Linked DNA regions of Homo sapiens. The protein of the gene in region 1 interacts with the protein of each later gene in a pairwise test. Each region holds a gene or a part of one and is shown on either strand. Other genes may lie near its edges.

Evidence for each region.
Region 2: the proteins of GTSE1 (region 1) and NIN interact in a two-hybrid assay, tested with the Homo sapiens proteins (one large-scale study listed by BioGRID).
Region 3: the proteins of GTSE1 (region 1) and PRPF39 interact in a two-hybrid assay, tested with the Homo sapiens proteins (one large-scale study listed by BioGRID).

The regions. Positions count from the first base shown.
Region 1 is NC_000022.11:46,306,870-46,310,369, reverse strand, and holds part of GTSE1 (G2 and S phase-expressed protein 1), read right to left. Parts: intron 2,221-3,500; coding exon 2,163-2,220; intron 2,052-2,162; coding exon 1,427-2,051; intron 1-1,426. UniProt on the Homo sapiens protein: May be involved in p53-induced cell cycle arrest in G2/M phase by interfering with microtubule rearrangements that are required to enter mitosis. Overexpression delays G2/M phase progression.
Region 2 is NC_000014.9:50,751,163-50,754,662, forward strand, and holds part of NIN (ninein), read right to left. Parts: intron 3,471-3,500; coding exon 3,401-3,470; intron 1,572-3,400; coding exon 1,356-1,571; intron 1-1,355. UniProt on the Homo sapiens protein: Centrosomal protein required in the positioning and anchorage of the microtubule minus-end in epithelial cells. May also act as a centrosome maturation factor.
Region 3 is NC_000014.9:45,082,845-45,086,915, reverse strand, and holds the start of PRPF39 (pre-mRNA-processing factor 39), read right to left. Parts: upstream 2,801-4,071; 5' UTR 2,667-2,800; intron 1-2,666. UniProt on the Homo sapiens protein: Involved in pre-mRNA splicing.

The DNA of each region.
Region 1 (3,500 bases):
AGTCCCACCAGCAATGCGTGAGCTTCCAGCTTCTCCACATCCTCAGCCTTCTCCTCATCCTCCACAACATCCTCATCCTCAAAATAACACCTGTTATTTTCTTTTTCTTCTTCCTTTAGGCATCCTAGCAGTTCTCTGTCAAGCACACTTGTAAGTAGGTGTTACACTCAAGTGGTCCACCCATTGCTAATGACTCCTCACAGGAGTGAGCATGTGCCATGAGCCACTCTAGAAGTGACTTCTCCCAGAGAAACATGCAGGACATGGTGGGGCTCCCACGTGTGCATGAGTGCATCTCAGCTGTGCGGACAGTGCCCTGTCCACTGGGAACAAGCTCTCTGGACCCCAGCTCACCACCCAGGACCAGGAGATCAAAAGAGATACTTCGATGGGTCTGGAGCAGCCCAAATCACACCACCTCTCTCCCCGAGTCCACGCGTGCTACATGCACAATCCCTGTCCCGAGTCCACGTGTGCTCCACACAGCAGGACCCATCCCACTCTCATTCTAGAAACATCACGGTAGGAATCTACATCCCAAACGGGCTCCAAATAAAGGAGTTTGCAGGCCCCAGCTGTTGGGGGTGGCAGTGCCGGGCATACCTCCTTGTCAAGGGCAGTGTGTGGCGTGGCGGCTGCACCTCGGCTGCCTTCCATCCTTGGCTCTCACCACAGGGAGTCATGTGGCTCAGGAGATGGGCTTGGTGGGGGTAAAGGAATTTCTGGGCCCTTGCTGAGCATTCTGCATTTGCCTGCACCTCCTATCAGCCCCACCCAGGGTCATTCCTCTGTACGTGCTGCCCAGGGGAGGGGGCAGAGCTGGGAACGGGCTGCAGGGTGGGCCCCGGGGCTCCCACCCGCCCCGTCTTCCTCTCTGTGGCCTCTCCCGAGCAAGAGCCAGATCGGGCAGCCCTGGCAGCAAGTCCTGTGCTCACACCCAGCTTTCCCCCAGACCTCCAGGACCCTCAGTGTCCCAGAGTAGGCAGACTGCACCCAAAGGCACCCCTGTCAACTGCCACCTCCCAGGAAAGCTCACCTCACTCAGTGCCCAGGAGGAATGCAGTGTAAACTGAGGCACGGTCAAGGAGGCTGACTAGCAGCCATTGCAGAGGAGGGGAGTTTTTGGAAGAGGTTGCTTATTAAAGCAAATGAAATCCCTACTGTGTGGTATATCCAGCATTGTAACAAAACAAAAGGAACAACTTCAGACAGAATTTAGGAGGAAATATTAGGTCAACCCAACTTATCCAAGCCACCCCCACATCAGCTCCCTATTGGCAACTGCTTTTCCTGGACTCCGCATTCCTGTGTTTTGTAGGCCTCAGAGACTCGCCACCTCTGAGGCTTTCCGCATGTGGCTTCTGTGAGAGGGCTGAGGGGCAAGGAGTGGGGGCTCCCCAGGCAGGCGCTCTGCTGTGGCATTTACCTTCTCCGCAGCCCCAGGGATGCTTCTTCCTCTAACAGAGGCCGCTCGAGGCAGCAGCAATTTGGTCCCGGGCTTCCTCTGAGTCGCTGCCTGACTTGCAGCATGAGCAGTGCATGATTCCCTGGGCAAAGCATGAGCAGAGTGCGGAGGCCCCGGCGCCCGGGTGAGGCGGGCCTGGGCACCAGAGCTGGGCAGGGCCGGGGAGGAGGCCAAGAGCCGAGGCTCACCCACAGGGGGCCCCAGCAAGGGGCTGTCTGACAGGTAGTATGTCTCCCTTTTAAGAGACGTGGGGCTTTTCTTCATTTCCTTTTCTTTCTCAAAGAGGTTTATTTTTAATTTTGACTCCTGTATGAATCTTTCCACGCCCTGGCTCCGAGGGTCTTCAGGCTTGGCAGCTTGGGCTGCCTGGTTCCGGCTGCTGCTCTCAATGTGTAAAGCCAGTAAGTGAGCTTCTTTGTACACCTCCACGAACTTCTCCCCGGCCAGAGGGCTCCAGGCAAAGGGACTCTCAGATGTGGGCAACGGAGGCTGTTCGGGAACCGGATTATTTAATTCCAAGCTGGCAGCAATACATCTTTCTTTATGTCCAAAGGGTCCGAAGAAGACTTCATCATCTTCATTTGCACTATTTGTTTAAAAAAAGAATGATTAATAACTCATAACACTGGCATTTAAAGGAAAGACTTTACTGAATGTGGTTATGCCCAAGGCAAGGGAAGAAAACTCATTTGTTTACCTCGAAGAAGACAATGAAAGATCGAAGTCAAATTTTTCATCGGCCAAAAGAAGAATGTCTAGAGGGAAAAAATCCACTGTTATTTTAGTGCCACAGCTGATAAAGAGAAAAATATTACCAGGCTCTATGGCTTGGAATTAAATAAAGGTACTGTGAAATTTCACTCCCCAAAGTGTATCCTGTCATGATGCTAATTTAGTTTTTCATAGGGGGCTCTAAGTTATATTTTTTCCTTTTTAAAAAATTTTTTAAATTTTTTCTAGTGACGAAGTCTCGCTATGTTGACCAGGCTGGTCTCGAACTCCTGGCCTCAAGTGATCCTCCTGGCGTGGCCTCCCAAAGTGTTGGGGTTACAGGCGTGAGCCACCATGCCTGGCCAGTTTTTTTTTTTTTTAATTGCATCAGCCGGCTGGGGGCGGTGGCTTATGCCTGTAACTCCAACACTTTGGGAGGTCTAGGCGGGCAGATCATGAGGTCAAGAGATCAAGACCAGCCTAGTCAACATGGTGAAACCCCGTCTCTACTAAAAATACAAAAATTGGCTAGGCATGGTAGCGCACACCTGTAGTCCCAGCTACTCGGAGGCTGAGGCAGGAGAATCGCTTGAACCCAGGAGGTGGAAGTTGCAGTGAGCCAAGATGGCACCACTGCACTCCAGCCTGGGTGACAGAAAGACACTCTGTCTCAAAAAAAAAAGAAATTACATCAGCCATTCTATGTTCACTAAGCCACCCAAAAGCTTAGGTCCTTACTTTTAAGATATAATCTAAAATGCATTCACTGACTCATTCAACTAGCTTTTCAAGAAGAGATAAGTCATTTTCCAGGTATAGAACATTTTCAAAAGACCACCTTCCTCAGCTCCCCTAGAATTAAATTCCCCTCTTACAAGCTACAAAACATCTATTCATAGTTCAACAATGAATTTAATATTACTCAAATGCACGGAGTAGGGACTCTATAAGAATTCGTTGACCGCCATTGCTTCTTGGAGTCCTTCCTGAATCCTCAGATGAAATTACTCTGTACCCCACCCCATCCATAATTCTATCACAGCTGGCATGGCCCTGTCTGCCCAGGTCCCTCTAAAACAGATCACAAGTTCCAGGTTAGTGGGTCCCTCTGCAGGGGCACCTGCTCCCTCCTCCAGCTCCCCGCAAGGCTCCCGCAGTGCCTGGACCTCACTTCTACCACTGCACTAGCCTCTGTGAGTGCCTCTTGACCCTTCTATGGCCCCAACTAGACTATAAGCTCCTCCAAGATAACAGTGTCTAACACTAACCCAAATTCCCAAATGTCCAGCTAAGGGCCTGGACACTTAGCAAATATTTATCAAAA
Region 2 (3,500 bases), on another chromosome or scaffold:
TACTCTCCTACACATCAGCATCTATGTTGTTTCCACCATTTTGCAATTAGAAACAGTGCTGCAGTGAGTAACCCTCTGCATATGAGTTTTCATATTGTTGCGGTGGTATCTTTAGGGTAGATTCCTAGAAGTGAGATTTCCAGGGCAAAAGCTAGGTACATATGTAATTTTGTTAGGTATTGTCAAATTCACCTACAAAAAGGCGGTACCAGTTTGTATTCTCCCAGCAAAGCATGAAAGAGTCTGTTTCCCCACAGCCTTGCCAACAGAGTATGCTGTCATATTTTAAAATTGATGCCAGTCTTATAGGTGAGAAATTATACAAGTGTTGTTTTAATTTGCGTTTCTCTAATTTTGAGTGATTCTGAACATTTTTCCATAGATTTGAGGGCCATTTTAATAATTTTATTTTATTATTTAGAGATAGGGTCTCACCCAGGCTAGAGTGTAGTGGTACAGCCTCAAGGGATCCTCCTGCCTCAGCTTCCTGAGTAGCTAGGACCACAGGTGTGTGCCACTACACCCAGCCAATTTTTAAACTTTTTGTAGAGATGGAGTCTTGTTATGTTGTCCAGGCTGGTCTTGAACTCCTAGGCTCAAGCTATTCTCCTGCCTCGGCCTCCCAAAGTGCTGGGATTACAGGTGTGAGACACCACGCCTGGCCCATTTTTATCTTTTGTATATGATTTATTTGTTCGTATGCTTCTCCCATTTTGCTATCAAATTTTTGGTCCCATGTCCCTCCATTTTTAAGAGTTCTTTACTAGCAGGGATATTAGGCCTTCTCACTGTGGTATATGTTGTGAATATTTTCTCCTAGTTTGTCAGCTGTCTTCTAACTTTGTTTATGGTATCTTTTTGCCAAGTAAACTTTTTTTAACATATAATCAGTGTTTTCTTTTATTGCCTCCGGTTTTTGAGTTACAGTTAAATAGCCTTTCTTTACACCAGGGTTAAAGACAAATTCACCCGTATTTTCTTCAAATATTTGTATAGTTTTTTTTTTTTATATTTAGTCTCCTAATCCAATTAAGTTTATCCTTGTGCATGGAATGAAACATAGGTCTAATTTTATCTATTTCCGAATGTCTACTCAGTTGTTCAGGCACCATTAATTTAAAAGTCCATCTTTACCCCAGTGGTTTGAGAAGTGGCCCTGGTTATACACTACGTTTCCATTTGTATTTGGGTCTAATTCTAGACTTTCTATTCCACTTACCTACTTATCTATTCATGTGCCAGGACCATACTGTTTTAATTACTAAGGCTTTATGTTTAAGGAAGTTTAATACAAACATTTCTTCTATTTCTTGGGATTTCCTCAAAAAAAGCTGTCAGGTGGCTACAGGCCATACCTGCACTTTACAACGTTCCAGTTCTTCTTTCAGATTAAACTTCTCTTGTTCCCGTTCCTCCAATGCACTGTTTCCTGGCTCTTTTTCCTTCTGGCATAGCATTTCTGTTAGACGTTGATTAAGTTCTTGCAGTTTTTCCTGGTTTTGAGAGTTCTTTTGGCTAAGTTCTGTATTTTCCAAATCCAATTGTTGGTTTTTGATTTTTAATTCTGAAATCTAATTAAAATTAAAATAAGTTTTTCAAACTTGTTACCCTACTTGTGCTAAAAAAAAAAAAAAACAGATTTAGAGACATAATTGTCTTTTCCCTCTTTATATAAAGTTTAAAATATATATATATTTCAAAACAGAAATAATACACACTCATTATTACAAATTCATTCCATTCACAAGTGTATGAAGAAGTGAGACACTCAGTCTGACCCCACTCTACAGGGGAGCCCATTGTCCACAGCTGGATATGTGTCCCTCCAGATCATTTTCTACGCATATACAGAACCCATACACACATACAGATTCTTTTCTTCTCTTTAGCAAAATTTGGAAATTTTATGTTTGGACAGCTTGCTTTTTCTACTTACTTACTTAAAGACTCTTTCCAGGTGGGCACGGTGGCTCACGCCTGTAATCCCAGCACTTTGGGACGCCGAGACAGGCGGATCACCTGAGGTCAGGAGTTCGAGACCAGCCTGAACAATATGATGAAACCCCATCTCTACTAAAAATACAAAAATTAGCCGGGTGTGGTGGCATGTGCCTGTAATCCCAGCTATTTGGGAGGCTGAGACAGGAGAATCGCTTGAACCCAGGGGGCAGAAGTTGCAGTGAGCTGAGATTGCGCCATTGCACTCCAGCCTGGGCAACAAGAGCGAAACTCCGTCTCAAAAGGAAAAAAGACTCTTTCCAAGTCAGTGTGTTCAGCAACCACCACATACTACTTTTTACTGGCTATAGGATATTCCATGTAGTAAGATATTCCATAATGCATTTATCTGTTCCCACGTTGATAGACATAAAGTTTTTAAAATCATTATTTCTTTTAAATGGATCTTTTAGAAAATCCATTTATACATGGTAGTATTTTGTATTTAGAATTATTTTTTAGAAGTAGGATTGCTGGGTTAGAAGATCTGTATATAGATATATATTCATTATTGTTTCAACAGATATCTCTAATATGTCTTCCTCACAGTGCTACCACCTTATAATCCTAACAACAATGCATGGGCACAGTCATTTCCTCACATCCTTTTAAATACTAGATATCAATCTTTACTTCTTGCTAATTCAATAGGTTAAAAAAAAGACGCTTATTGAATTTGCACTTCTCTAATCACTAATAAGGCTAACCATCTTTTGTATTCTTTTTTTTTTCTGTGACTTGACCATTCATATAGATTGCCTATATTTCAACTGGATTTTCCCATTTATTTGTAAGAGTCCAAAATACATTTTGGATGTTAACACCTTGTCTATTTCAAGTGCTGAAAATACTCTTTCCCAATATGTCCTTGTCTTTTGACTGCTTCAGACAGATTCTTAAATGGCCTTCCCTTTTTATAACTGCATGTTGTAAGATTATACAAATTGAGCACTGAATGGCACCAGCTATCTGAATAAAATGTAATTCTGTGAAATGATATGCTGATTAGCTGGCATTCTGTATATGTGAAATTCTGCCCTTAACTTTCTGCTTTCAATCATGGTGAGGAAAAAGGAAGGGCTAACATTAACTGAAACTGCACAAGGGCTACAGCTAATATTTCGTAGGTATGGTTTTAGAGGTATCACCTCCTCAATTCTGCTGATGATAAAGCTTTATCAAGCACTTAGGGCCTAGAATAATATATACATTATTTAACATAAAACAGGAAGCTAGTTTAGAGTCAGTATGAGGTAAGTTTCCATTTTCAAATTCAGAATTTACAACCTTACCATCATTAGCTATATGCTATTCATTACCGTGTGCTGTAAATTTATAAATTTCAAAAAATGGGAAAATTTTGGAATCAAAAAACATTGAGAAATATTAAGTATTTCCTTACCTGTTTCTTTAAATTTTCAACCATCTTCTGAACTGCAGCATTTTCTTGTTTTACAGTTTCCGTTTTTTGCCTAAAAGGAATGATGAAAATAAAATTTAAT
Region 3 (4,071 bases), on another chromosome or scaffold:
TTATTGAGTTAGTGATGTCCATGTACATCTTATTGTGGGCTGCAGTAAAAAAAAAAAAAAAAAAAAAAACTGAGAAACACTGCTGCACTACTGCAAACTAATATTACTCGAATATTAAATTTCCTGATCACAGCTCAACAAGAGTAAAAGGAAAAAAAAATTAAATTGGGTGAGAATGAGGCCTTATCAGTTTTGTTCACCGCTGTCCCCCTTGAACCTGAAATAATACTTGCCGTGTAACAGCACAACAAATATCTCTGAATGATATATCCAGTCTCAACTTAACTTTCCAAAAGTATTAATCTTACAATACTCCTCCTCATTGCCATTTCCAGAGTCCCTTAGATTTTTCCTTTCTGAGCCTTGACAAAAGCTGTTCCCCCAGACTAATAAAAGTCCTCCCTTTTTCAACTCACCAAACCAGTCGATTCCTTTTCACTACATTACACTTTATTATAAAATCATATGATAGGCACAAAGGACACAAGTATAAAATGAAACATAACATAAAGTGAATAGGCAATATATAAAAAATACATTTATCATACCTTTCACTTTTAGTATAATTATGACGTACATTAAGTATTTCAGTGACAATTATGCCATCTTAAAATTTAAAAGGTCTTTTGGAGGATGACTTCAATTACTAACACTTAATTAAAAATGGGACATTTGGGCCGGGCACGGTGGCTCATGCCTGTCATCTCAGCACTTTGGGAGGCCGAGGCAGGCAGATCACCTGAAGTCAGGAGTTCTAGACCAGCCTGGCTAACATGGTGAAACCCCGTTTCTACTAAAAATACAAAAAATTAGGCGTGGTGGCGCGCATCTGTAATCCCAGCTACTGGGGAGGCTGAGGCAGAAGAATGACTTGAACCCGGGAGGCGGAGGTTGCGGTGAGCCAATAGCGCCATTGCACTCCAGCCTGGGCAACGAGAGTGAAATGCCATCTTTTGACCTAATACCTTTTTTTTTTTTTCTGTATGCCTCTTATTCCTGTAGAGGTACTTAAAAATTATACCATTGACTATTCTTTTTCATAAACACAGCAATATATAAAAATCTGAAGTCATCACTAAAGACTGAAAGGAGTTTTGGGTAGAGCAAAACAAGTAGCTTTGCAATAAGCAAATCTCATCCACAAGGCAATCTGGAGATTTGGGATGTAAGAAGAAAAGAGACTATCATAACCACTGGTTTTGGCAGCTGTTTTTAAGGGCTAAGTAGTCACACGCCGACTTTTTAAAGTCTCTACATATTAAACACTGTGTTCCAGAAACTAGATTTTGTATATGTATTTACATAAACGTCTACATCAATCTTCGGCTTTTTGGAAAACGTACCATTTGGCTGGAACTACACTACCTTCTTCCTCCTTCGGCTATTTTTAATTTTTTTTGAAGTCCTATCTTCCATGTAGATTTGTTAAAACATACCACAGAAAACAGCACATACAATTTTTATCATTTGACTTTTAAACATCTTCTTTCTTATTCAATTATAAGCAAGGAAAAATATTCTGAGACTTTACACAAATAGTGTCTCATACCACCTATGAGCCATCTATGCTCAACCCCTACTTCAAAGTTCACAATCTAAGTACTAGTCCTCTTTAACAGAACTCCTTTCCATCACTTTATCCCTACTAGAGAGTGAACAGTGGAAAGTTCCAACTTTTGCAACTCTAGAATGAGGTTATAAATCTAGAGGGAGGAGGAAAACCTGACAGTAGACGCTTGTTCTTTTCACTCCATTCAAGCTCCCATACAGCCTAAAACACTTAAGTTTCAACATGAGCTTCATACGTCCCTGTCCAAAACTTGCTTTCTCAAGCCTCACGCTTTCCAGCTGTAGCAAAGTTTATTTCTGAACAGATTAAATCAGTTGCTAAATAATCTGAAGTCCTCAAACAGAAGGCCATATGAGTATCAAACGAAAAAAACAACATTTGAATCAGCATAAATTCACATGGTATTATGGCATCATTACTAATACACTGAGCAGTATTATTTATTAACTTCAAGTATTAATTAACTTAAAGATGTGATTTTGGAGAAAAACACCAGTGGTGGTCTCTGATTACCAAAGTTAAACATTCTTAAGCACAATCCCTTAAAAAATCCTGCCAGGATCAATGATGTGTTTTTTCTGTTTTAAAGTATCCTGCCAAAAGCTGTGGGTGCTGTGACTTAGGGTCGCAAAAGTGTTGCTTATGTAGTCAGAAGACAGAACGTGCCCTACAAGGCGCTCACATGCCTTAGTAATAGAACGTATATTATCTTCCCAATCCTCTGGCGGCTGCAAATGTGCTCCTTCCACTTCCAGCCACCCCAGCCGTGTTCCAGCTCCGGGAGAAGCAAGGGCTTTAGAATTACCCCCAAATATCTTCCTAAATCCAGGCGAAGGAGGCCCACACTTCTCCACCCTACCTAACGCACCCCTCAAGTGAAACGTTTGGTCTAAGAAAAAAATACCTTGCACCGCTCCACCCAACAGGTGGGAAGGAGAAAGGAATGGACAGCTGAGCGCTGAATCCGAGCCAGGCCTCAAACAGGGCGGGAGAGGGAGGCCGCGGCCAGAGCGCGGCCTGAAACCCGGCAGGCCCCTTTCAGTACCAAGTACCACCCTCTGCCCCAGCTAATTTCAAGGAGCCCGCCCCAGCAGACCTTATGATGGATGCCACTTGATGCCATGAGCCGGAGCCTGTGACGACCTAGCCGAAGATGGCACTTCACCGCCTCCGTCCCCACAGCCAGCACAGCAGCCGCCACCCGCGCCACGGCCGCCTGGTCCAGGGCACGATGCGCATGCGTCAGTGTCCCTGGAGGCGAAAAAGTCACGTGGGTTCGCAGCGCGCAGGCCTGGCCCTCCCAGGGATCCTCGCTGCCCGTGCGGCCCCAGCCCCGCCCCCGCAGCCCCGCCCCGCCCCGCCGCGAGCGAGGGCGGGGACCGCTGCGCCTACCTGCCTTTCCCTCCATAGGGACTTCCCAAAGGAAAGGAGGGCGTTTAGGGGCTTTCACACGCCTGATCTTAAACACAGCGCCCTGACCCCTCCCCACCAAAAACGGCAAAATGTCATTTTTGGGGGCAAATCTAAGGTTTTCCCTACAATTGTTCAAGCTTTCACACTAAAACATTTACCTAAAAACGGGCAGAAATTCAGCCTTAAACCCACAAATCTCACGATGGTATAGACCCTGGGCCCACTCAGGTTTCCTGAAAACTAAACAGTTCTGGAGTTAGGGGTTTGGAGAACGGGCTATTGTTAAAGAAAAAAGTATTTAGTGACACTTGTTAAAGCACAAAAAGAGGGCTTTATTCAGGACCATCGCAACAGGTATAGGGACCACTGACTGCAATGGAGACTTGCAGTAGGGAAAGAGATATTGGGCTCAACTCCTCATACAGCATGGGCAAGTGGAGATTTATAGCCAAGGAGCGGTGGTAAGTGAATGTATAATTACTAAGAGGAAACATCAGGGTAAGGGGGATTTTGGCTAAACCCACCTAATAGGATTTTTGCTGAAGACAGGCCAAGATAATGAGGCATCACCTGGGGGATGGTGGAGACTGAAGAACCTGATCAGATATTGAGGATGATCAGCTATCAAGGATGGGGGTTTATTGCTAATCTGACTTAGCAAAGTTCTTTGCTTAAACTGGATTTTACAAAGAAAGTGTACAGAAGAGCCTAGCAGAAGATTCAGAAACCTGACTAAAGTTGGCCAAGCAAAAAAAAAAATCTTTGTATCTGAAGGGATATGTTATCCTCTGGACAAATTGAGGGGGACTGTGCGTTAACAATCTTAGCAGTCCTCTTCAGTTGTACCACCATCTCCACTTTAATAAAAAAAAATTTTCTTTCAAATCTGGCCTCTCTCCCTTTAAGATTCTGTTACATTGGTGCCCCCGCATTCACCTGTCACTTACCATGTAATCTGTTGTTCCAGGTGCATTAGTATTACTACTGGGCTCCAAGTTCCTCATCTGAAATCTGTCTCCTCTGGAAATACTTATTTACAAGACGACGTTTCTTGTCACAACGCAGGTTAATCATAAATCCTCTCACCA